4 linked regions of the Homo sapiens genome follow. The protein of the gene in region 2 interacts with the protein of the main gene of each other region in a pairwise test. Each region holds a gene or a part of one and is shown on either strand. Other genes may lie near its edges.

Region 1 (2,735 bases), on a different chromosome or scaffold from region 2:
GCAGGTACTGTGTTTTTACCTCCAGTCATTCCCCAGCATCGAGCATGATAAGTGATGAGTCACTAACTTTGTATTTACCTCTCTCTCCATGCCAAGGTTTTCAAACTCTTATACCAATTGTTTCCATTGTAAGTGCAAAAGAAAGAAAAAGCTAGTCCTTTACGAGCTCTATTTGGAGAGGGGATGGCTTGGAAGGAATCAAGGGACACTTGGCACTTGGGTGAACAGAAATTCAAGAAAAAGATCACACTCAGCTCTGAGAACCTTTAGAGTTGTGGAGTGAAATGCTATGCACAGTGGTAAATGGTTGCTCTTGAAGTCCTTCGAATCTTCAGTTGAGTTTACAGGAATCACCAACTGCTGAATGTAACTGCCTTTGTTTTGGAAAATGTTAAGAGTCAAGTCTGCATATTGGTGGGCATGGGGCCACAACTGAATTGGCCCACAAGACCATAACAGGATGAGCCAGCACTGGCAGGGGACATCTGAATCACTTAAGGTTGATTTCAGCAGACATGGCACCAATACACATAATCTATAAACAAAACTTTTTATTACAGTGCACTTATTGTAGTTGAAAACATGCAGCACCATTTGAAACAAAGAAGATTCAGAAACATGGAAATAAGTTTTGTATCTAAACATAAATGGATGGTAAAAATTAAAGTTTTCATTTTTTAAGGAAAAGCATATTCATTTTTGTCAAACATTTACAGTAATCCGGGTTAAAAAGCTATAGTTTTCATGATTCTGTTAAGTCTATTCTTCAAAGTATGCTATGTGAGGTTGACCTAGAGAACACTTGACCACATCTACTTCTCCACCTCCATTCTTTGCCCGTTGAAAGTGAATGTTAATTAAATCCTCCACAATTTCTTCATCCATTTGAATGCCTTCCATTCCTGTCAGAAGCACTGTCCTCTTAGATGTTCCTGAAAATATCTAAGAAGGAAAAAATGATAAATAGAAAGATTTCTAAGAGCTTTGAATTACAAAACTTTACATTCATAATCTCTGCTTAATATTTTTTATTTTATCTTAGAAGAGACAAGAAATCTTAGGAAGATTTTCCAAGCAAGAGAATATCCAAGTCAGATCTGAGTTTTAGAAAGAGAACTCTGGTGGCATTATGGAACACAGAGGAAAGGAGGGATGCTCTGGGAACAGAAAGACCAGGTAAAGAGGTAGTCAGAAGTGGAGCTGGCAAGATTTAGTGACCAAATGAATGTTGGAGGTGAAGCAAACTGAAGAGTTAAGTATGAGTTCTAGCTTTTAAGTTGGTGGAGTAGGTAGATGGTGGTACCATTGGATACCTGAGAAGGAAGAGGAAAAGGGAGCAGGTCTGGGGTAAAGATAATGAGTTCAGAGAAAGTAGGCAGGAATTCTTTCTCATGCTCACTGACAGTAGACATATGAGAGAAATGCAACTATGTCTCCATGTACAAAAATAAAAATTGTGCCATTATCTGAGTAATTTCAGTTTTAAAAATTGTATAATAAAGTACAGTTTTGCATTAAAATGCTCCTTCAAAAGACAAACTCATTTTGCACCAAGCAAAAATGAAGTAAAGAAACCATTTTGCTATCCCTCATTGATAAGATGCATAAGTAACAGACTCACAACAACTTTATTTTTTGTGGGGTGGGTTTGGGCAGTGAGTTCTGAAAATGAGAGAACAGAGATGACTTTACCTGATACTTTTTCAAGTGTATTTCTGTGTATGGAGAAACAGTAACTCTATGGCAGGTTTGATTTATATAAAGAGGGTATTCTTTCTTTTTCAAAATCTTGTCAGCCACTAAAAGCAAAACAAAAACAATACTTGTCTTTTTTATATCATAAGCATTTTTAACCAAAGTTAAAACTTCCTTCAAAGAGAACACTATTACAGTAAATATTGAGTTAAAAGATTAATTTTTAAGAAATTCTAAAGCCCACTTTGAAGACTTCACAGTACATAATTTTGAAAACTACAAGACCAAACAATAATGAGGTTTAAAGCCTTCATTCCATCTTGAATTATTCACTGCAGTCAATCAATGCACAAAGGGTTGCAATGTCCTCAGACAGATCTACTTTGAGCTATAAAAAATACCATAGTCTTTTGCAGAAAGTAACCCACTCATCTAACAAGACTGGACTGTTTCCCAGTTTCTCAAAAGCTGTAAGTGAAAACTATGATTAGAATACTATATACATTTTTTTCAATATATTCAATAAACTGAAGTAATGATGTTAACCAAAGCAGGGAGGGGATTGAATGTCATCTAGAAAAACTGAAAGGAAATAAAAATTCATCAGTTTTCTACAACACAAAGAATAGTCTATTTTTTAGCAGTATTTTTTTCTCCTAGAGTGGTGAAAGGATGTGTGTCAAGACTGTAACATTTAACAAAAACAGTTCTTGGGAATATACAACCATGTTTTTTATGACTCTTCTCACTCATCTACCTTGGATCAGCAATATGGTACAATGATTAAGAGTGTAGGCCCTCATTGGCGAGAATATGGAGAAATTGAAACCCTGAGGCAATGCTGATAGAAATGTAAAATGGTACAGCCACTGTAGAAAACAGTATGACAGTTCCCCAAAATATTAAAATAGAACATGATATGATCCAGCAATTCAACTTCTGGGTATATACCCGAAACAACTGAAAGCAGGGACTCGGACAGATACTTGCTCGTTAATGCTCAGAGCAGTATTTTTCACAATAGGCAAAAGGTGGAAGCA
Region 2 (7,036 bases):
TGTGCCCTTTTGGACCCTGAAATACAGCTTAGTAGAAAGACCTGGATACGTTCTGTGTTCGAATCTAAAAAAGATGGCTAAGATGATAAGAGGCTGCAATCTTCCAAGTTGCGTGACCCATTACTTGAATATTTCTCATAATAATGATGCTCAAGTATTGACTTTTTAATGAACTATCGACTTACAAAAGCTCGTCTGCTTATAGGACTATTTTTAGTGCTCTTTGCTAATCTCTTTACCCAACCTTTATTTTATAAATACATGCTACTGATAAGCAGCTCTTCATGTAGACTTTGCTACTCTTGGTATTGCATGAATCTGGGTAGGGCGATTATGAGAACCATAGAAGGCCTTAGATTTAAAACTGTCTAAACCTGGCCACAGTCGACAGCTGGATCTCACCTCCTTGTTATTTGACAGATGTGTGCCTTAGGAAAGAAGTTCTTGTCTACAGAATGAATTAACCTGTCTGGCTTTTATTATTAATGTTTAGCTACACTGTCACCAATTTTACCGTAATGTTAGTGGATCCTCAGTAATTATTAAGCAGTGTGTCAGGCACATGTCTAAGCATTGTACAAATATCAGCTCATTTAATAGGCACCACCACCTTTGAGGTAGGAACAGTTATTTCCATTTTGCAGTTGAGGAAACCGAGTCACACACAGATTGACCGATGTCACCCAGCAGAGCAGGTGGTTTGGCTTCACTCCACTCCATTTTCTCAGGAGTTTCTTCCCAAGGCCACATCTAGACCACACCGACAATCTTTACATTTATGAATAGAACTTCAGGATTCGGTCTGAATAGCATATGGTAGCGGAGGAGTCTCATCCAGTATATGTCTGTGTTATTCTCTATCTTTAGTTCATGTCAGAAAGTTATTTGTAAGTCAAATTAATTCCTAGTTCATGGCGCCTTGCCAGTCAGTTCAGTAAAGGCCTTTGCAAAGCAAATGATCTTTTACAACGTGTAGGGTTAGCCGCACATAACAGAAAACCCAGTGGGTTAACCAAATTGGGGTTCCATGGCGCTGCCATCTTGTTCAGCCATTCGTAGCACATGGCGTAGGGTATGGCCTGGCACATGGTGTTCATTTTCATACTTAATGCTTCAGTGCAAGGTGGCGGCTCCTGCATGATTGTCTTCCTATTCCAGGCAGAAGGGAGTCTCATGGAAGACAGAAGACAGGTAGCAGCCAAGTCTTCCCCTTTAAAGAGTTCTTTGAAAAACTGTCAAGTGACCTGGTTTACATCTCAGGTGCCAGAAATGTCACATGGCCACCTCATGCAGCAGGGAAGGCTGGTTGCTGTAATTTCTTTCTTTTTCCTTCTTTTGTTTCTTTTCTTCTTTCTCTTTCCTCCCTCCCTCACTACCTCCTTCCTCCCCTTTCCTCTCTTTTCCTTTCTTTTCCTTTTCATTTCTTCTTCCTTTTTTGCTTTTTCCCTTCCTTTCTTTTTTTTTAAGTTTGGTACATTGTGGCCCTGAAAAAAACTTGGAGTTTGGTCAGAAAGGAAAAAGGGGAGAATAGATATTGGTAGGCAGGCAACAGGGATTTACATGCACTGATTTTCATAGCTCAGTTCTCAGAGTACACATGTGCCACATTCCCTACTTATATCCAGCCCTGTTTTAGAAAAAGCATTATATCTTCATTCCTGTCCAACCTTCTTAGGTCAAAATCTGAACTTATATGAGGTCCTTTTCTCTAAGCTTGATTTAAATATGAGAAATTTCATTGTCAAATGCAGCTACCACAAGTCGTTTTTCTGCTTTAAAAAGGCCACTGGGGAGTGCCTTCGACGAGGAAGACGTGGGACTGGTTGTCCCAGCAGAACTGTCCTAGCCTTGGCTGTTGATCAGCCTCGAGTGGGTAGGCTCTCAACAATTGTGTAGTTGGCCAGGCGCGGTGGCTCACGCCTGTAATCCCAGCACTTTGGGAGGCCGAGGTGGGCGGATCACAAGGTCAGGAGATCGAGACCATCCTGACCAACATGGTGAAACCCCATCTCTACTAAAAAATACAAAAAAAATTAGCCGGGTGTGGTGGTGGGCGCCTGTAGTCCCAGCTACTCGGGAGGCTGAGGCAGGAGAATGGCATGAACCCGGGAGGCGGAGGCTGCAGTGAGCCGAGATCGTGCCACTGCACTCCAGCCTAGGCGACAGAGTGAGACTCTGTCTCAAAAAAAAAAAAAAAAAAATAATAATAATAATAAAATTGTGTAGTTGAGTCAGCACATCTCTAAAACCCACCTTTGGTCCCAGGACAGAAGTCTCTCTGGCCAGCTTCTGGTGCTGCTAGTGTTGGTAGCAGTCCCCATCACCAACCAAGAGAAAAGGGGGCTTTCTTGCTCAAGGTCTAAGCCACGGGACTTGCTCTTTCCCTGTCGTGTCTATTTGTTTATGACACATAGCAGTCTTAAGGTGCTTGACTATTTGGCCATGGAAAGTCTGGAATTTCCAAGTTAACTACAGAGATCTGATACATCACAGGTCAACTGCAATGTACTACCTTGCACTGTTAGGCCCTTCCTGCCACCGTCCAGACAGAGGCAGTTCTTTCTGTTACCTTGATTCCAGTTTAGGTTATACCTTCTCTTTTAGTCTCTGTGGTCCCTGGGAAAGGGAGGCCTTTTTGTTTTAGCAGCCGTAGGTCTACCATTTGGCCATAGTTCAGAAAAGCTCTTCATTCCACCCTCTCCTTGGTTCCATTCACTCTCCTGCACTCCAGTGATAAAATTCTCTTAATAACAGAAAAACATTGATTGATGCACTTATTATCTTGGCAGACGCTGTTCTAAGTGTTTATTTAGGCTCTCTCATTATAAAACTTCTTTACTTATTATTTTTTAATACAGAGATGGGGTCTCACTCTGTTGCCCAGGCTGATCTTGTCCTGAGCTCAAGTGATCCTCCCACCTCGGCCTCCCAGAGTGCTGGGATTACAAATGTGAGACATTGCACCTGTCCAGCCTCTTTGATTTCATCCTTAGAAAACCCAGTGAGGTGTTTGAATAATTTCCAGCCCATATTAAAGAAACTGAAGCAGAGAGAGAATTTGCTCAGGGTCCCCTAATTAGTAGTTGTGGTCTCCTTGGGGCTCTCCTGTACTCCATCACTTTGTCACTTTGATTACTTGTACCAGGGGGTGGAGCTGAATGGTTCAGAGCATGGGCTCTGGAGCCGGACTCAGTTTGTATCCCAGTTCTGCTTTTGACTGTGTGATCTTATGTAAGCTCTCCATACATTTCTACTCCTTGTTTTTATTGCTTTCTCTCTTCCTTTTTCCTATAGCTCCAGGACACAAACTGTTTTCTCTGAGCAGTGAAGTCTTTCATAAGGTGTATTCTTATCATCCAGGGGCACCTGTCAGTGTCAAAGAGATTTCTCTGCCGTTTACCAGCTGGTCAGAGGATCCGGGGCAGAACTTGCAGCTGATCAGGAAGGTTCTTGATTAGCGGAGTGATAAATGCCTCTTGCAAATTTCGTGAGCTTTCCTTGGGTAAATTAGTTTGAGCCATATTTCCTCACTTTTAAAAAATAGTACCTGGGCTTGCAGTGAGCATGGCATAGGATGGTTTTTGCTGTCAACTGTTGGCCCCTGTCTGGTACCTGGTCTGTGACCAGCAACTTCAGCATCACCTGGGAGCTTGTTAGAGATGCAGAAGCTTGGGCCTGCCGAATCAGAATCTGCATTTTAATAAGATCCCCTGGCGATTCGTGCACCCATCACAATTAGAGAAGCACTGTTCTAGCACGTAGCTGCAAATGTGTTTTCAAACTTTGCTAGAGTCCTGCTATTGTAGTATTGGGCTATCTGGTCTGGTATGTACTCCAGCTGTTTTATTTACATTCTGGAATGATGACACTTAATTTGAGAAGGCTTGTCTTTGCCACTAATTAAAGTAAAAAACCAGTCTTACGGTGTGTGCTTATATTTATAAGCACCACCTAGCAACAGCATCAGGCAATTCTTAGCAAAATAAGTGAGACATTTCCCTTGAGATTTCTTCCTTATTCCTTGAAGAGTTCTTATAACAGCCTTTTTTTTTTTTTTAAATAAGAGGCAGGGTCTTGCTCTCTTGCCCAGGTTAGAAAGCAGTGGTACGATCATAGCTCATTTTAGCCTCAAACTCCAGGGCTTGAGGCTTGAGTGATCATCCTGTGTCATCCTCCCAAGTAGCTGGGACCACAGGCACATGCCACTACACCTGGCTAATTAAAAAAAAAATCTTTGTAGAGATGGGTCTTGTGGTATTGCCCAGGCTGGTCTGGAACTCCTGGTCTGCAGTGATCCTCCCGGCTCGGTCTCCCAAAGTGTTGGAATTACAGATGGGAGCCACCATGCTCAGGACCAACCCCTGCCCCCCTTTAAAAAAAAATCTTTAACACAAGTAGTAAGAAGGGAGTTGTGGGGTGGTCAGTGGTCACTGTGGTTGAAGTTTGTTCTCAGGATCCTCAGTAGGACCTAGGAGGATGAGATGGGCTTTTGGCTAGTCACACTATCCTATAGTTGGTGACCACACGGGGTTTACCACACTTAACTGACTTTTGGTGGAGATTTTATTGTTGATGGGAAATGACACCAAATGTCATTTCAGGAATAAATAACCATGGCAGTTCTAAAAACTTGGCACAAATATATGAGTTGCGCTGAGACTGGGGTAGCTCCATCCTTTATCCATGGAGATTGGCAAGTGACAACTCCTGCTCCGGCTCCTTCGTGCATTCCCCTTATTGTGAGGAAGCGAGAGGGGCCCTCCCGTCTGTGTCCCCATGCCTGTGTCACTGCCTCTCTTTTCACCCAGCGTGTTGTCTTCTAGCTCCCGGACCTGAGCGTTCTTGCCTTGCTTTCTCTCTTTCCTCTCATTTATGCTATTTCTGGCGTGTCATCACTGGCTTACCCATTATGTAAGCTTTAAGTGAAAAAATCAGATGTTATTTTCATGAGCTCTGAGGGCACTTCTGCATTTGTTCTCATTTGACTCTTCTGAAGCCTGGAGATGCACAGGAAGGCAGTTTCCACTGCAGATGAGCAGCATGGAGGAGGCTTTTGGAAGTGAAATGAATTGTCCAAGGTCCAGAGGTGAGGAGCTGGGACCAGGCCTCACAGGCTTCTGTTCTGTGGTCCTGTCCCGTCCCTGGTTTCTGCTCTATCCAGGTGGTGCCTTCTAGTTCCTTCCTAACCAACAAGTGTGGGAGGCTGGGTGTGGTGGCTCACGCCTGTAATCCCAGCACTTTGGGAGGCCGAGGTGGGTGGATCACCTGAGGTCAGGAGTTTGAGACCAGCCTGGCCAACATGGTGAAACCCCGTCTCTACTAAAAAAAAAAAAAAAAAATTAGCTGGGCATGGTGGTGGGCACCTGTAATCCCAGCTACTCAGGAGACTGAGGCAGGAGAATCTCTTGAACCCGGGAGGCAGAGGTTGCAGTGAGCTGAGATCGTGCCACTGCACTCCAACCTGGGCGACAAGAGCAAAACTCCATCTCAAAAAAAAAAAAAGAAGAAATATAGGGAAAGCCCTTTGCATAACGTATGGCATATGTGTGGAATTAAAAGAGGAAATACAGGGAAAGCCCCTTGCATAACGTATGGCGTATGTGTTTACCCACTTATTATTCATGATCAATAATAACTCAAGTTAACTGGTGGTGTAATTGGGATATTTTTATTTAAATGTTTAATATTGTTGTGGCTGATTGTCACCCTTCATGTGCTTATTAATAATTTATGACAATTCCATTCACCCTTTTGTTGTTATACAGGAGGTAAGTTAAATCAAGTCCGTCTTCGGTCTTCTCATTGTTTCCTTGGACGCTTTCCCCCTGTTCTTAGGGGAATCTTCTCGGTTTTAGGTATTGTTCTAAGTGCTGGGAATCCATAGTCCCGGCTTTAGTGTGGTAGATGTGTGGGTGACAAACGCCACCACCAACCACAAAACAGATGATAAGAAAATTTCTACTGATAAGCATAAATCAGAAAATAAAGCAGAGAGGTGAAGGAGAGGGACTGGGTGGGGGACTCCTTTGGATGACGTCATCAGAAAGCCTTTCAGAGGTGACATTTAGGCATGAATGGTAGGAAGGAACCAGCCATCAGAAAATTAGGGAGAAGGGCATTCTAGGAGAGGGAATAACTCATGCAAAGGCCCTGAGGTGCGAACCGGCTTGGAGAGTTTGAGAAAAGGAAGTTGTGGTGGGGTCATGAGAGCGAGGGTGGGGGTGATGGGTGAAGAGCAGGTGAGAGAGACACACAGAGGCCAGATCATGTAGGTTCTTACAAGTCGTGGTCAGGGAGGTGCAATTTTTTATTTTTATTTTTTAATAGTTACGGTGGAAAGCAGAGAGTGACAGTATTTGATCTGTGTGTTGAAAGATCAGTCAGGGTTTTTGAGCAGAAATGAATTCAGGAAATCCAGCTGGAAGGCATTGCAGTATTCTGGAGGCGATGGTGTCTTGGATTCAGGTGTTGGCAGTTTCAGCCTTTGTGAAGCCAAGTTCTAGTTACAGTTGGGTCATTGACAGCTTCCAATCTCAGTAATGTAAACATTATATTTGAAGTTGGGATGTCTGCTCATTCTTTCCCCTCCTGCCAGGGCTAAGGTAGATGCTCTCCTCTGCCCCTGGCTCCTCTCTGGCCAAGTATGATGGTCATTTAGAATAGAGAGCGCCCTCTGTCTTTCTGCCTTGTTCACATCATTGTTATTTTCTGGCACTTTTTGCTGCGGCTAGTTTCTGAAGCTGTTTATTCATCTATGAATAGAGTTTTTGTGAAATTGGACTTAGCCTACTTTGTTTTCTTTGACATCAAATGGCTGATTGAACATTTTTAAACCTGGGATCAGAAGGGCAAATATGGTTGTTTATTAAAGCAAAGCAGTTCCTTAGAATGCGAATCAATAAGATGTAGAAATTAGAAAGCTTTCTATGTGAAAACTTTTAAAGTATTTGAGTAAAGAAACTGGTGTATCTGACTTAAAATATTTTGCCCTACTGAAAGACTATCCTAATGTTTGCTTTAGAAACTATAGCTCCCA
Region 3 (7,036 bases), on a different chromosome or scaffold from region 2:
CCACCTGTGGGGCCTGAGGGGCTGCCAGGCACGGCCAGGGTAGCCAAAGGGAGTGAGGTGGGGCTCTCTGCAGATAACTTCTCAGAAGTTCCCTGAGCTGCCCTGTCAGGGAAGAGACTGGTGAGCTGACATCAGTGTGCAGGGCCCCCTGCGGCAGGAGCTCATCTAATTCAGCCTGTGCCCCCACACTCACAAGGGCCCAGCACAGCACCTGGCGCCCAGTAAGCACGCAATGCATGGCAGCCCGTCCAACGATGAGCGCGTAAGAAAGCTGAGCTTCCCTCAAAGGAAGGGAGAGACGCCACTCACACAGCCAGACAGAACCTGTGTTCCAGGCCGGGCACCCAGCGGGGGAGCAAAGGCCCAGAGGGCAAGCCAGGCCTCTGAGAGACCAAAGGCAGGTGTGGGTTTTAGGGACCAGCCTTAGCTGAGAGCAGGGATCCGGGAGGACTGACCGTCCTGGAGCCCAGCGCAGGACAGAGGCAAGGTGGGGTGGGGAATGCTTCCTCCTGGGAGAGCTTTCCAGAATGCAAATCAATCATATTTCACCCCTACTTAATAATGCCCTAGAGCCCCGTTGCTGATGGGGAAATGTTCCCATTCCTTGCTGTGGTAAAGGCTCTTTACCAAGAAACCCATAAGCTTGCCCACCTCCTCTCCTGCACCTTCCTACGAACAGGGAATGAGGCAGAGCACTTCTAGGGGCCCCCCACTCCTATGGAGGGAGGGAGGGAGACAGGAGGTGGGTGCGGGGAGGGGCATGGCCTGAGCCTGTGGATACTCCTGGGGCCCAGCCTTCCCACCAAGAAGACATTTCATGTTCTCAAAATGCCTTGGTTGACTTGCCCTTTGTTTTTTTGGCATTCCCTGGTGTTGTTCCTTCTGAAAACTCCACTGGTGCTAAAGAAAGGAATTTCAGCCCACACGGCAGCTAAGGAACCGTGTGGGGCTGAGGCAAGGAGTAGGACTCCTCTGCTCCCAACACACATGCCCAGTGGCCATGCAGACAGGCGCAGGGCACACCCTCCCACTGACCACTGGCCATGGGAGGAGCTACTGCCCAGGTCAACAGCCTCAATCCCGACCATCCATCATCCTCTGGTCACAGGCTCAGCGTATTCTGAGCCTCTGGTAGAAAACATGGTTTTATTCTGGGGGAGGCCAGTGTTCCCACCCCAGCCTCCTTCCCTGGAGGAAGGCCCCAGCCCAGGTCTCCAGCCTCTCTCCCTCTGACCTGCCCTTCGGGACCTTGGGGCTGGTGATCCCCCAGCCTCCTTCTCTGGGCCACATCCACTCCAGGAAGCAGGGCTGGGCCCTGCCTAGGTGCTCCTCTGCCAGGAGGGCCTTGTCCTGGCTCCTGCCAAGGCACCCTACCCAGCCCACGGCCCCACTGGATCCCTCCTCTCCTTGCGCCTCCCCAGCCCCGGGCTGGCCTCTGCAGGTTCCACCCCAACCAGTGCAAGGGAAGGCTGAGCCGGCCGTCTCAGGGCACCTTCTGACAGTGTTGCTGCTGTCAGCTCGCTCTGCTGGCCTCAGATCTTGGAGGACTCGAGCCGGGGACTCCAGGGTGTGGGGGGCTCCCGCAGTGCCCGCAGTTCCTGCTCCAGTGCCTGGTTGCGGCGGTACATGTCCATGTACCCTCCCTGGATCTCCCGCTGGTAGCGCAGCACGCGCTCCTTCTCCTCCTGCCAAGTCCGCCGCTCCTGCTCAAAGCGCAGCGCCTGCTCCTGGCCCCGAAGTCGCTCCTGCAGCAGCTCAGCCCGCAGCTGCTCAGCACTGTCTCTGGCCTCGCTGCCTCCTGCCTCCCCTAGCAGGCCCCTGCTCTTGCAGTCATCAGTCTCACAGCTGCCTGGGGCTTCCTCCCGAGGGGCCTGCTCCTGCAGGCTGCGCACAGCCTCGCGCAGCCGGACCAGCTCTGCGTCCTGAGCCTGGGCTTGTGCCCGGCTGCCCCGAAGTTGTGTCTTCAGACTGAAGATCTCCGCCAGCTTCTGGGCCAGTTCCGCCTGGGCTTCACGCAGCTGCTGCTTCAAGAGGCTAATCTCTGCTGTCTTCTGGCACACCTGGGGGATGGGGAGGACGCAAGCAAAGTAGGGTGTGGGGAGCCGGTTTGGGAGGGGGCAGGCAGAAGAAGGGACCGGCAATGGAGATGGGAGAGTCTCGGAGCCCTGTGTCATCTCTCACCTCCCATCGGGCTTCCTCCTCTGGTCGTGCACTGGGGTCAGCCTCTGGGAGGGTGCCGGGGGCCCGAGGCTCCGGAGCCAGGCCCTGCTGAGCCCGCAGCTCCTTGCGCAGGCGCCGCTGCTCCTGCTGAGCCATAAACAGCTGCAGCTGGAGGTTGCGCTCGCTGCGCTCAGCCTTCTGGGTCACCTCGTGCAGCCGCTCCACATACAGGCGCTTCAGCTCAGCCAGCCACAGCCGCTGGCGCTCCTCCAGCACCTGTCAAGGGGAAGAGATGCATCCACCGTGGCCCTGCCCCCTAGAGGCGACTCAGAGCTCCACCTGATACTCCAGCCACTGATCATATCCTGTGCCCCTACACCACAGGACCCAGCCACACATGCGCTTTAACCCGGGATGCCCTCCAGGGTGAGGTGTCCCCATCACATGGCCCTCCCAGGGAGCCTCTCTCCTTCCCACACAACTCCCAGGCAAGGACCCCCAGTGACATGACATCCCCACCACCTGGGATGCAGAGGAAGGAAGCCAAGCCAGCTCCCCCTTTCTTGCTCTCTTGTGTCCACGGCCACGTGGGTGAACTGGCTGGGGCCCCTCTCTCTGGCCTGTACCCCAGTGCTGAGGCACAGAACAGGACTCCAGGGCAGGGGCTCCCTCACCTGCGTGAAGGGGTTGGAGCCGTCCTCATCGCCAAGGCCCCTCTTGAGCTCCTCACAGGTCTCGGGCAGCACGGCTCCCATTTCCTCGGCAGAGGAGCAGGAGAACTCGTAGGGGGGTGGTGGCTCGGGCAGGCAGCTCAGCACAGCTGGTGGCCCAGCCTCCTTGGGTCCTTGAGAGGCCCGGTCCAGGGAGCCCCCGAGGTGGTTAAGGTGGCCAAGGGAGGAGCTGAAGGGGCTAGGGCCAGTACCAGGACTGCGACCAAAACTACCCCCACTGGAGGAGTCGGACAGGCTGGGCTCGGGCTCAGGGCCGCCCTCATCTAGGCTGAGGGCGTGCAGCAGCTGTGCCCGGGCCTGGCTGGCCCGGGGCCCGGGGCTCAGGGGCGGGTGGCAGGCCAGCGTGTGCAGGCTGCCATTGCTGCGCCACAGCTTCTGGCCTTTGTGGGACGCCAGACTTTGCATGGATAGGAAGCCTTTCCCGTTGCCCGCCGTAGGCTTGAACACTGAGGGGCGAATGCGGCACTGCCAGGAAGAGAGGGCAGAGAGGGCAGGTGTGAGACCTGGGCAGCTGCCTGCTCTACCTCCTGATGCTCTCACAGCCCCTGAGGGATCCTCTTTGAGACCGCGGGGCACGTGCCACCAGGAGGCAGTGAACAAACCTCAGGCCAGCCCATAGCACGATTTTCGTATCTCAGCATGCCCCGTCCCCACCCCATCCCAACATCAGGGTCTCCAAGGAGACCCCACCCTCCCCACACCTTGTAAGGGGCATGGGCAAAGGTGCACCTTGTCAAAGCGACCCCGTTCTGGCAGCGAGGTCTTGCTGAAGTCACCCGCGCGAGAATGTTCCCGGTAGTAGAGGGTGGCATAGTCGGCAGGCTCGTTCCGAGGGGCCCGCTTGGTGTTCTTGGTGCTCTTGCTGTCCTTCTTGGGGAGGTGCAGGTAGCTGAGGAACTCACGCTGGCCCAAGCCCTTCCGGAGGAGCCCATCAGGCTGGCGGGAGCCCCGAGACCCGGCAAGTGCCGCCCGCAGCTCTTCAGGGGAGAAGTCCTGCCGTTCCAACAGGCTGCCCACGCTGCCCATGGCAATGCCAGCAGGGCCTGGGGCTGTGGCCATGAAGTTTCAACAGGGTACAGGCAGCTGCTTCTGGGAATTGGGAGGCTCCATTAGGGGCAGGTGAGCACTGGCTGCCCAACTTCCCTGGGGCCTGAAAACAAGGTACTTGCTCCCTGTAGCTCCCCACAACCTTGCCCAGGCCCAGGTAAGGCAGATGTGGGTCCAAGAGAGAACCCCGGGACAGGATCCCTAGACTGGCAAGAGAAAGAAGTACAAGCCCCAAAGCCACCTGCCCATCTGTCACTTGCTGGACTGAGTCTAAGGAAGAGCAATGGTGCCCCAGCCGAGCACCGAAGGGCCAGCTCCACCTCGGGGCCTGTGTGGGATTCAGAAGTACCGGGAGGGGATAGGCCTGGAAGCAGCAGGACAGGAGCCGTCCTCCCAGCACTGGGCCCGCACAGGGCTAAGGAAGACAAACTTGGCCGGGCGCGGTGGCTCACGCCTGTAATCCCAGCACTTTGGGAGGCTAAGGCAGGCAGATCACAAGGTCAGGAAACGCAGACCATCCTGGCTAACACTGTGAAACCCCATCTCTACTAAAAATACAAAAACTAGCCGGGCATGGTGGTGGGCGCCTGTAGTCCCAGCTACTCGGGAGGCTGAGGCTGGAGAATGGCATGAACCTGGGAGGCAGAGCTTGCAGTGAGCCGAGATCGCACCACTGCACTCCAGCATGGGCGACAGAGGGAGACTCCATCTCAAAAAAAAAAAAAAAAGAAAACTCAGCCTGGCTGAACCTGACCTTGCTTACCCTCCTGCCATGTTCCCCACCAAATCTGTGGGGTGGGGAGAAGGCACAGAGACCCAAGGCCAGTGAGACCCTCCTTCCCATGGGAGAGGGGTAACCCCTGCAGGCCCTCTTCCTGCAAAGGGCAAAGCTCCCCAAGGGAAACATCTGGCATGGGGGGGAGGGTTGGGGGCTACAGTGGGAGGGATACAAACAGGAAGGGCCCAAAAGGAGGAAGGATGACGTGAACAATGGCCACAGTTTCCGGGACAGGTGTTCCCGTCTGGGCAGTGGTGGGTGGAGGAGGGAAGGGGCAGCTGGACTCACTCCAGCCCCTGTATATGCTCTTATTCCAAAGCCCACCACCCGGCAGGGTGGGTCCCAAATCCTAACCCTGGCGGAACCAATCGGTGTGTGACCCCGGCCAAGCCACTAACCTCAGTGAGCCTGGACTTCCGCACACACACCCTGGCGACAATAACACTTATCACTGGGATGCTGGGAGGATGGGGTGGGATAACATGACAGAGCACCCAGTTCAGGGCCTGGGCCACAGCCAGGGTCAACAGGCTGGCTGGAGCCGAGCTCAGCCAGGCACACAAACATCACCAAGGGACTAGGCTGACGGACCACCTTCCACCTGTGCTGGGCCACACACTCTGGAGGCAGGGCTGGTACCTAGTCCCCTGGGGATCCTCTGCACAGCCCAGTGCCCAGCATGGAGCGGGCGTGCAGAAAGGTCTGGCCGAGTGAACAAATGCCACCTTCTCTGCCTCCCACCCCTGAGCAGCTGCTCCCATTCTCGAACAGAAGCCCAGCAGGCCAGCTGCAGCTGTGGGTCCCCTACTACCACCCATGCTTCCGGGCACCCACTCCTGCCCCCGAACAATGGTCGTTAGGAGGTTCCATCTTCCTCAACCATTTCCAGGTTTTGTGTTTGTGGAAGACAAAGCTCTCCGGGAGGGGGACCTGCCCCAACCCCACAGCCTCACCTCACCCTGTGCAAAAATGACCTCAGCTCTCCCCCAACCAACCCCCAAACCCAGGATGGGGCGAATCCGGGTTTGCACACCCCACCCAGCCCAGCCCCTGAGAACGCACGTTGCAGGCTACATAGGAGATGCATCCAGGTAAGGAATCACAGGGGATGGGTTCCTACAGCGACTTGGCCCTGCATACGGGTCCTGCTGAGTCCTGTGACAGAGTTATTGTCCCTTCTTTTTTTTTTTTTTTTTTTTTGAGACAGGGTCTTGCTCTTCACTCTGTCACCCAGGCTGGACTACAGTAGTGCAACCATGGCCCACTGCAGCCTCGAACTCCTAGGATCAAGCCATCTTCCCACTTCAGCCTCCTGAGTAGCTAAAAACACAGGTGCGTGACACTGTGCCCAGCTATTGACCCTTCTTAAAGGTCAGTGGGGCTCAGAAAGGTGAAGTGACTTGCCCAAGGTCGTAGCTGGTCATGGCTGCCCAATGTCTAGTGGGACCTAGGATTGGTCCCTACAGCCAAAAGTATTAGAATGGAAGCATCCTGCCTCCTCATCTGATACCTCCTTGCCACGACAAGCCCATCCAGCCAGAGATGTGGTTTGTCCACAAGCACGCTCAACTCCTGTTGCTGCTTCTTGGGGAGGGGACAGCAGAGACCTGCTCTCCAGCCTGCCCTCACTCTCTCCAGGGGACCCCAGACACAAATGCTCCGCCTTTTGCCATGCCTCAGTTTCTGCATCTCTGAAGCGGGAAAGGGCCAGGCATGGTGGCTCACACCTGTAATCCCAGCACTTTGGGAGGCTGAGGCAGGAGGATCACTTGACCCCAGGAGTTTGAAACCACCCTTAGCAACATAGCGAGACCCCATCTCTATTTATTTTTAAAAAGGAAAAAAAAATGAAGTGGGAAAGACCCCGCCTGCCCGGCTTTCCTCAAAGGATTACTGACAGTCAGAGATGGAGGGGAAAGGGCTTATGAAATGTAAGCCCTGTGTGGCCCTGGGGGCGGGGACGTTGGCAGCAGTGCCAAATACGCCCACCTCACCCCAAATGCACACCGCCTCAGCTTCCGGTGGGCAGATGCTCACTTCCTGTCTCGAGGAGATAACCGACCCCCAGGTTCCCCACGAGGCATCGCAGGTCCAGGGAAAGTCCCTGAGCTAGAGGTAGCCACCGGCCGCAACAGCGCATACAACCACACACGCCACGGTGTGCCACATGTCAGCCCCACCCAGCAGCACAGAGAGCCCATGTTAGAGGACACGGTGCAGACGGTCACGTCCAGCAGCAAACACAATCATACAGCTGTGCACAAGGTCACCCACAGGACACACTGACAAAGCAGGAGCAGCCCAGTGGCATGATGACCTA
Region 4 (7,606 bases), on a different chromosome or scaffold from region 2:
ACCTGAGCTTCTCAAATCCCTTATTCCTCCCTGAGGAGCAGAGGCAGGGGTGGAGGGATGCAGGGAGGAGGAACTCCTCACTACCCTCCCCGCCAAAGATCTTACAAACCCCATCTGGAGCAGGTCTCTAAACTCCTCTCTCCGACACAGAGCGCCAAACTGCCTCTAGAAAACAAGGCATTAGAAGTTTCTCTAGAACAGCAGGCCTCAAGCTCCTCCAAGGGCTAGGAGGTGCTGCCAGTTTCTCAATCACCCTCTGACCTCCCTGACTGCCACACACTCAGATGCGTCTACAAGGAGCCGCAGCAGACAGACAGCTGTGACCATTCCAGGCCTCTTCCAGAGGGGACCCCTCAAGCTCAGCTCAGGGTACCCTGCCCCAGGCAGCCACACTGAGCCGCTGGTCTCTGAAACCCCAGGCTCTAGTGCTGCCCGCCCACCTGGCTCCACAACCACGGCAGGGCCGCAGAGCCTGCCAGACATGGACGGACACGGAGACACACACACACACACACACACACACACACACACACACACAGCCACCCAACCTCACTCACACATACACGCTCAGAGGACACAGGAACAAGCTAGCCCAGAGCAGGAACTTCTTTAGCATTTGCTAATTTGGGAGGCTCTATGAACAAATGACTAATTTACGCCAGAAGCAAATGCCAGGAAACCTGATAGCCCCCTGGGAGCAAGGGTTCTTCCTGGGCCAGCTGTGCACCCTACGAAAAGCTTGCTTTTAAGTTTCACACACACCTTTGACCAATAGGAAGAAAAATGACATAGAAATGTCACAGCTCTAACCAAACACATCTTTCTGTTGGAGTTTTGAACTAACTTCTCACCCTTCTCCTATATAAAGACAATGCGGGTCATTCTCATCCCTTCTAGGTGGACAATTTCACCCTCTCATAACAACTCTGCGAAACACCCCACAACCCTCCCTACACCCGAGCCGACTGGCAGGGCACAGAGGGCGCACCCCTGTGAGGCCAGGGCAGCCTATGGAGTCAGGGCCTGCAATGCACTTCACCCAGTTAAGACACTGCTGAGGGTGGTGAGGGCTGAAAAGCTGTTTGCCCAAACACCGGGCAGCTCAGCTGGCCGCCTCAGTGTGGCGTGCGTGCTATGGGCAGGGGTCTCCCTGCCCTCACTCCTCCGCAGGCCAGCAGTACTTGAGGATGGACTCCTGGAGTTCCCACCTCCCTCCCGCGTCCTTACCATAGCTGCTTCTGCCAACTCCATGCAGAGCGTGTGGCCAAAGGCCTACTTACATGTGGAGCGCAGAAACGCAGCCCTTTGAGGCCAGAGCTCAAGGGAAAGGAGGAGTGCAATCAAATGCAGCAAAAGCTCCAAAGAAAAATTATAGGCTTGTTGGCTGCCACCTCTGGGTGAGTACTGTCCTCTTCCGGAGTCAGTTTCCTGGTCTGCAAAATGTGGGCTGGTCCCTTAAGGATCCTGCATTGTTCGCTGAGGGTGACGGTGTGACGTGTGTGCGGTCTGGCACAGCACAGTGAGCTATGTGCATCTCACCATGGGGAACAGGAGGGAAGGCAAGGCCACAAACCACCCTCCAGATTTTTAATATGAACCCGCTGTAGAAAAACTGGGGGAGACACGGAATCCCACAGTAGCTTATGAGGGACTAACTGGGGACTGGGATGCAGAGAAAAGCTTCCTGGAGGAGACTCAACACCAGACACAGCTCCTCGCGGACACGTCTCCATGCCTGACATGCAGGTGTAGCAGGATGACACAAAGTGGCTGAACTTGTTTCATAAGGAATATCTGAATTTTATTTTTAAAGGAAGTTTTTGGTCTTGCAAGTGGGACAACAGTGTGTTCTGCCAGTTTGTGTCATCCTGCCACACCTGCACGTCAGGCATGGAGACGTGTCCACAAGGAGCCCGTGTCTGGTGCTGAGTCTCCTCCAGGACGCTTTTCCCGGCATCCCAGTCCCCAGTCAGCCCCTCACAAGCTACTGTGGGATTCCCTGTCTCCCCGAAATTAGGGTGGTTTCTTGCCTTGCGACTGGAGAGGAAGCACTGATCCCCAAGGCCACGTGAACACGGGATGAAACGTGCAATTCTCCTGTGCCCAAGGCACAGACAAGAAACGGGAGGCCTGAGGGGCCAGCGCTGGGGCTGACTCCGTCCTGTGTGAGGCTAAGAGGCCCTGAGAAACGCGGGGGGAAAGCGGGAAACAACCTTCGCAGGGGCATAGTGTGTGTGTGTGTGTGTGTGTGTGTGTGTGTGTGTGCGTGTGTGTGTTGGGGGGTATGGAGGATATGAAGGAGAAATACTCAAAAAACAAGTCGCATTCTGGAGCTGGGGGAAGAGGTGAGCTGGGGGTCAGAAGGAGAGTATGGGACAGAGAAGGAGGGGACAGAAAGCCTGGGGCCGTGCGCCCCGCAGAGAGCGCCCGAGAGCCGGCGCCGAGTTCCGCTAGGAGCCCTCCACGCTGGGGGATCCTGGCGCAGAGACAGCGCTGGGCTACTGGCGAGGCTCGCTTAAAAAGCGTCCGTACCCCAGGGTCCCCGTTTGTGGGTAGAAATTCAGTCTGGGACAAGAACAAGAACAAAAACAGAAATGGAGAAAAAAAAGTCTCGGTCTGGTTTTTTAAGGGCAAGCGGACCTCGTGACCAAGCCTCTCTGAGAGTGGAAGCGCAGGAAGGGTCCGGGCTGGGGCGTCAAGGCCAGGCCTGGCGGCAAGGGGTGGGTGCGGCTCGGGGGCCGCGCGCTCAGGCCGCGGGGGTCGCGCGGGAAGCACAGGGCTTCGGGTTCCGAGCGCGGCTCCCGGGAGGGGGCGCTGCCGCCCGCGGCTGGGTCCGGCCCCGCAGCCTCGCGACCAACCCCGCCCCGCCCCGCGCGCCCGCCTGCCCAGACTGCGGCTCCCGCCCGCGCCGCCCGCGCCCACCAGGGACCGGAGAGCGCCCGCACCCATCCGGCCCGGCCCGGCCGCCCAGCGCCTCAGGCCAGGACCCTACTCACCCTGCTCACCCGGAGCAGCCGCCGCCGGCCGGAAGTGCCGGCCACTCGGTTCTCCTCCAGTCCGCGCCTCGTCGCCTTCCCCCAGCTACTTCCGGGACGCTCTAGACAGGCTGGAGGACTCAGCACTCGGTGGTGTCTGGGAGCCAGACGCAGGCTTTCAAAGAGCTGGGTGGCCGCGGAGGGCGTGGGAGGAGAGGAGGCCTGGAGGAGAGGAGTGGGGGGGTCCCAGGGTGGGGGGAGGCGTGGGAGGGGAGAAGGCGCGGGCAGGGAGGGGAGAGGGGAAACGGGGCGAAGGCGGGGCGCGCGGCCTGGGCCCCGGGCTCCGCCCTGCTCTCTCCATCTGTAGAATGGGCGCAGGGCGTCACATTCCTTTCATGACAGTGAACCCTGCGCTGAAGGCGTTGGGGCTCCTGCAGTTCTGGGGCAGCCACAGGCGCCCAGGGTTTCGTGCCGATCAGCCCAGGACGGTCTTCCCGGTGCAGTTTCTGATGCGGGGAGGGCAGTGCTGCCTTCCGGTCACCAGGACCAGTGCTCAGCCCGCCTGCTTGACCCCCTTACTTAGCTGGGGTCCAATCCATACCCAATTTAGATGATTCAGACGATGGGATTTGAAACTTTTGAACTGGGTGCGACTTAAGTGAGTATGGACCTGAGTTGGTGCTGTAATGAGTTGAGGCTGTGGAGGACCTTGAGATGGGTGCGTGGATTTTGCCCATGGGACCTATGCAAATTTTGGAAACTGGAGGGTGGACTGTGGTGGGCAGAATAATGGCCCTCCAAGGATGTCCACATCCTAACTTCCAGGTCTTGTGAATACATTACTTACATGGCAAAAGGGACTGCAAATGCAATGAAGTTAAGATTCTTTAGGTGGAGAGATTCTTATGTTTATCAGGGTGAGCCCAATGTGCAGTCGTCCCTGGGTATCCATAGAGGATTGGTTCCAGCACTTCTCAAGGATGCTAAAATCCTTGATGCTCAAATCCCTTACATAAAATGGCTTCGTATTTGCATATAACCTACACACATCTTCCCGTATACGTTAAGTCACTTCTAGATTACTTATAATACCTAATACAATGTAAGCGCTATGTAGATAGTTGTTATACAGTATTGTTTAGGGAATAGTGACAAGAGAAAAATTTGTACATGTTCAGTACAGACACAGGTTTTTTTCCGAATTGTTTGTATCCTCGGTTGGTTCCATCTGGATGCAGAGCCCACGGGTTCAGATAGGAGGGCAGGTGCCATATCAGGGGTTCTTGTGGGAGTTAGGAAGCCAAGTGAGAGGACAATGGGATGAAAGAGGAGAGAAAAGGAAATGTGACAACAGACACAGGGGTTGGAGTGATGTGCTTTGAAGATGGAGGAAGGGGCCACAAGCCAAGGACTATGAGCGGCTTCTAGTGGCTGGGAGAGACAAGGAAACAGGGCCTCTCCTGGAGCCAGCAGAAGGAATGCAGCCTGCTGACCCCTTGATCTTAGCCCATGACACTCATTGTGCCATTAGACTTCTGAACCCAGAGCTGTAAGATATAAATTTGTATTGTTTTGGATCACCACGTTTATGGTAATTTGTTAGGACAGCAATAATAAACAAATACAGATTTGGGTAGCTCACTCCTCCTTTTTCCTTTTTTGAGGTAGGGTCTCACTCTGTTGCCCAGGCTGGAGTGCAGTGGTACATTCTCCTCACCGCAGCTTCAACCTCCTGGGCTCAAGGGATCCTCCTGCCTCAACCCCCAGAGTAGCTGGGACTACAAGCATGCACTGTCTCACCTATCTTTTTAATTTTTTGTGGAAACGAGGTCTAGCTGTGTTGCCTAGGCTGGTCTCGAGCTCGTGGACTCAAGCGATCCCAAAATGCTGGGATTCCAGGCACGAGCCCATGTGCCAGCTCACTCATCCTTAGGTCCGTTGTTACCTGGGCTCCCAGCACCCTCCCACCCTCTGGTTCTTCTCTTCCTCACCCTCCCTTGCTGGTTCCTTACTGACCAGGCCATTCTTTGGCTCTTTTTGTTCAACCAGTCCCCACTCCCTGGGTGATCTCCTCCAGTGTCATGCCGTTAAATACCATCCAACACTGGCAACGACCAAATTCATGTCTCCTGCCAGGGCCCCTCCCCAGAAATCCAGACTCCTATGTGCTAGCCAATGTCTCTGCTTAGCTTTGATCCTCCAGCCCAGCCTTGCTCCATCTGCATTGCCCCCACCTTCATGAACGGCAGCTCACCTTGCTATTCACTCAGGCTCAGCCTCAACAGTCTCCATCCCTCATATCCAGATCCTCTACCCTCAAAATCCAGCCAGTGTTTGGCCTCTTCTCACTCCCTCCAACTGCCCTCCCCAATCCACACCTCTGTGGTCTTGCCTCCTCCCCAGTCTCTGTTTCTGCCCTTACCCCCATACAGCTATCAACTGCTGCATCAAAAACCGCCCAAAACTTAGCAGCTTGAAACCAACTGTTTTTATTGCAGATGATTCTGTGGGGCAGGAATTTGGCCATGCTAGAGTCAGATGTGTTTCACAGAGGAGGCTGAGTCACGGAGCATACCAGGCACATGGCAGGACTGGAACCCAAGGTCCCTGGACTGGGGCTCCCATGGCAGGGTCTCCTGGGACAGCAAAGTCCTCCCTCCCCCGGAAGGCTGGCTCCATCCCTGGTGCGACTCTGCTGCTGAAGCAGCATCATTGGGGTAAATACCTGGGGTTCATTGTCTCACACCAAGAAGATTAAGGACATGGACTCATGTAGATGGGTTAAGGAGCAGAAAGTTTAATAGACAGAAGAAAGGAGAGAAGAGAGCAGCCCTCTCTTTCGAAAGAGGCGTCCAAAAGAGAAAAGCCAGCCTGCAGCAGACCCCAGCAGATTTTATAGGCAGGCTTGAGGAGGCAGTGTCTGATTTACAAAGGGCCCACAGATTGGTATGACCAAGGGTGATGTTTACATATGGCGTGGGGAAGGCTGGTCGCCCCACCCTAATCTTATTATGCAAATGGGCTTCTACTTGGCCAGCACCATCTTGTCTGCTCCTTGCTGTACACATGGCTGGCAAAGAGAAGGGAAGATGGAGCTGCCATTTTGATCATGCCTAGTCTCAGGTAGCTTTTTCCCATTGGCACAACTGCTGGCATTCACGCGTGCAAGCTTCCAGCTTGCTTGTCTTATGTTTGCGGCTCGATTTTACAGGCTGCTCTTTGTTAGAAAAGAAAATGATTTGGAGCCTGCTTTTCATTAAAAGGAAAACCTTACTGAGGACTTCCTTACCCTCACTATCTGCCTAAATAATTTATTTTTAACTCCTATTTTTAACTGCCACCTCAGGGACATGGGATCACGTGGTCTCCCAGGACTTGGACAGTGCTGGTGGGCAGTGGGGATTGGCATGAAACTGGGGCCTCATCCCAAGATGCATGGGGCTCCTCCAGGTGCTCCTACCATTACTCACGGAACCTTGGGCCTCTTCTCGAGGACCAAGTCCATTCTGACACTGGGAGGGGTCAGAAAGAGAGGAAGAAAATACACTAGCGTGTAATCACCCAGTGGGTTCATTTTGACCCCTGGCAAGATAGAGCTGATTTAGCAAGACAGGGGAATTGCCATAGAGAAAGAGTTTAATTCATGCAGAGCCAGCTGAACGGGAGACCAGAGTTTTATCATCACTCAAATCAGCCTCTCAGAAAATTCGGACGCTAGGGTTTTTCAAGGAGAGTCTGGTGGGCCAGGGAATGGGTGCTGCTGGTTGGCTGGGGATGTGGAAAATGGTCCTCCTGTGCACTGAGTTTGCGTCCAGGTGGGGCCACAGGACCGGCTGCGGGGTTGGTGGGCCTCGCTAGAGCCATCCATCAGTCATTAGACGTGCAAAAACCTGAAACGACATCTCACAAGGCCAATCTTAGGATCACAATAGTGATGTTACTTGCAGGAGTAATTGGGGGAGTTGCAAATCTTGTGGTCCCTGGAATAACGGCTGGGAGTCGTTTCAGTCTAACCTCAGCAGAGCTCAGATCCCCTCATCTTCCTAATGAATAACGGCTGGGAATCGTTTCAGTCTAACCTCAGCAGAGCGCAGATCACCCATCTTCCTAATGAATAACGGCTGGGAATCGTTTCAGTCTAACCTCAGCAGAGCTCAGATCCCCTCATCTTCCTAATGAATAACGGCTGGGAATCGTTTCAGTCTAACCTCAGCAGAGCTCAGATCCCCCATCTTCCTAATGAATAACGGCTGGGAATCGTTTCAGTCTAACCTCTGCAGAGCTCAGATCCCCCATCTTCCTAATGAATAACGGCTGGGAATCGTTTCAGTCTAACCTCAGCAGAGCTCAGATCCCCCATCTTCCTAATGAATAACGGCTGGGAATCGTTTCAGTCTAACCTCAGCAGAGCTCAGACTCCCCTCATCTTCCTAATGAATAACGGCTGGGAATCGTTTCAGTCTAACCTCAGCAGAGCTCAGATCCCCCATCTTCCTAATGAATAACGGCTGGGAATCATTTCAGTCTAACCTCAGCAGAGCGCAGATCCCCTCATCTTCCTCATGCAGTGGTGGCCTTTCGTTAGCTTTACAAAGATGGCTGAGTTTTGGAAAAGGGCTGTTATGCCCAGA

The links.
Region 1: the proteins of CNKSR3 (region 2) and NMI interact in binary tests that used the Homo sapiens proteins (3 or more experiments, as listed by UniProt).
Region 3: the proteins of CNKSR3 (region 2) and N4BP3 interact in binary tests that used the Homo sapiens proteins (3 or more experiments, as listed by UniProt).
Region 4: the proteins of CNKSR3 (region 2) and JRK interact in binary tests that used the Homo sapiens proteins (3 or more experiments, as listed by UniProt).

What each region holds. Positions count from the first base shown.
Region 1 is NC_000002.12:151,269,934-151,272,668, forward strand, and holds the end of NMI (N-myc-interactor), read right to left. Parts: intron 1,800-2,735; coding exon 1,693-1,799; intron 943-1,692; coding exon 760-942; 3' UTR 537-759; downstream 1-536. UniProt on the Homo sapiens protein: Acts as a signaling pathway regulator involved in innate immune system response.
Region 2 is NC_000006.12:154,500,662-154,507,697, reverse strand, and holds part of CNKSR3 (connector enhancer of kinase suppressor of ras 3), read left to right. Parts: intron 1-7,036. UniProt on the Homo sapiens protein: Involved in transepithelial sodium transport. Regulates aldosterone-induced and epithelial sodium channel (ENaC)-mediated sodium transport through regulation of ENaC cell surface expression.
Region 3 is NC_000005.10:178,116,498-178,123,533, reverse strand, and holds part of N4BP3 (NEDD4-binding protein 3), read right to left. Parts: exon of another isoform or gene 3,981-7,036; 5' UTR 3,951-3,980; coding exon 3,621-3,950; intron 3,357-3,620; coding exon 2,835-3,356; intron 2,437-2,834; coding exon 2,182-2,436; intron 2,061-2,181; coding exon 1,533-2,060; 3' UTR 1-1,532.
Region 4 is NC_000008.11:142,666,936-142,674,541, forward strand, and holds the start of JRK (jerky protein homolog), read right to left. Parts: upstream 3,033-7,606; 5' UTR 2,997-3,032; intron 2,745-2,996; exon of another isoform or gene 1,281-2,744; intron 1,275-1,280; exon of another isoform or gene 110-1,274; intron 1-109. UniProt on the Homo sapiens protein: May bind DNA.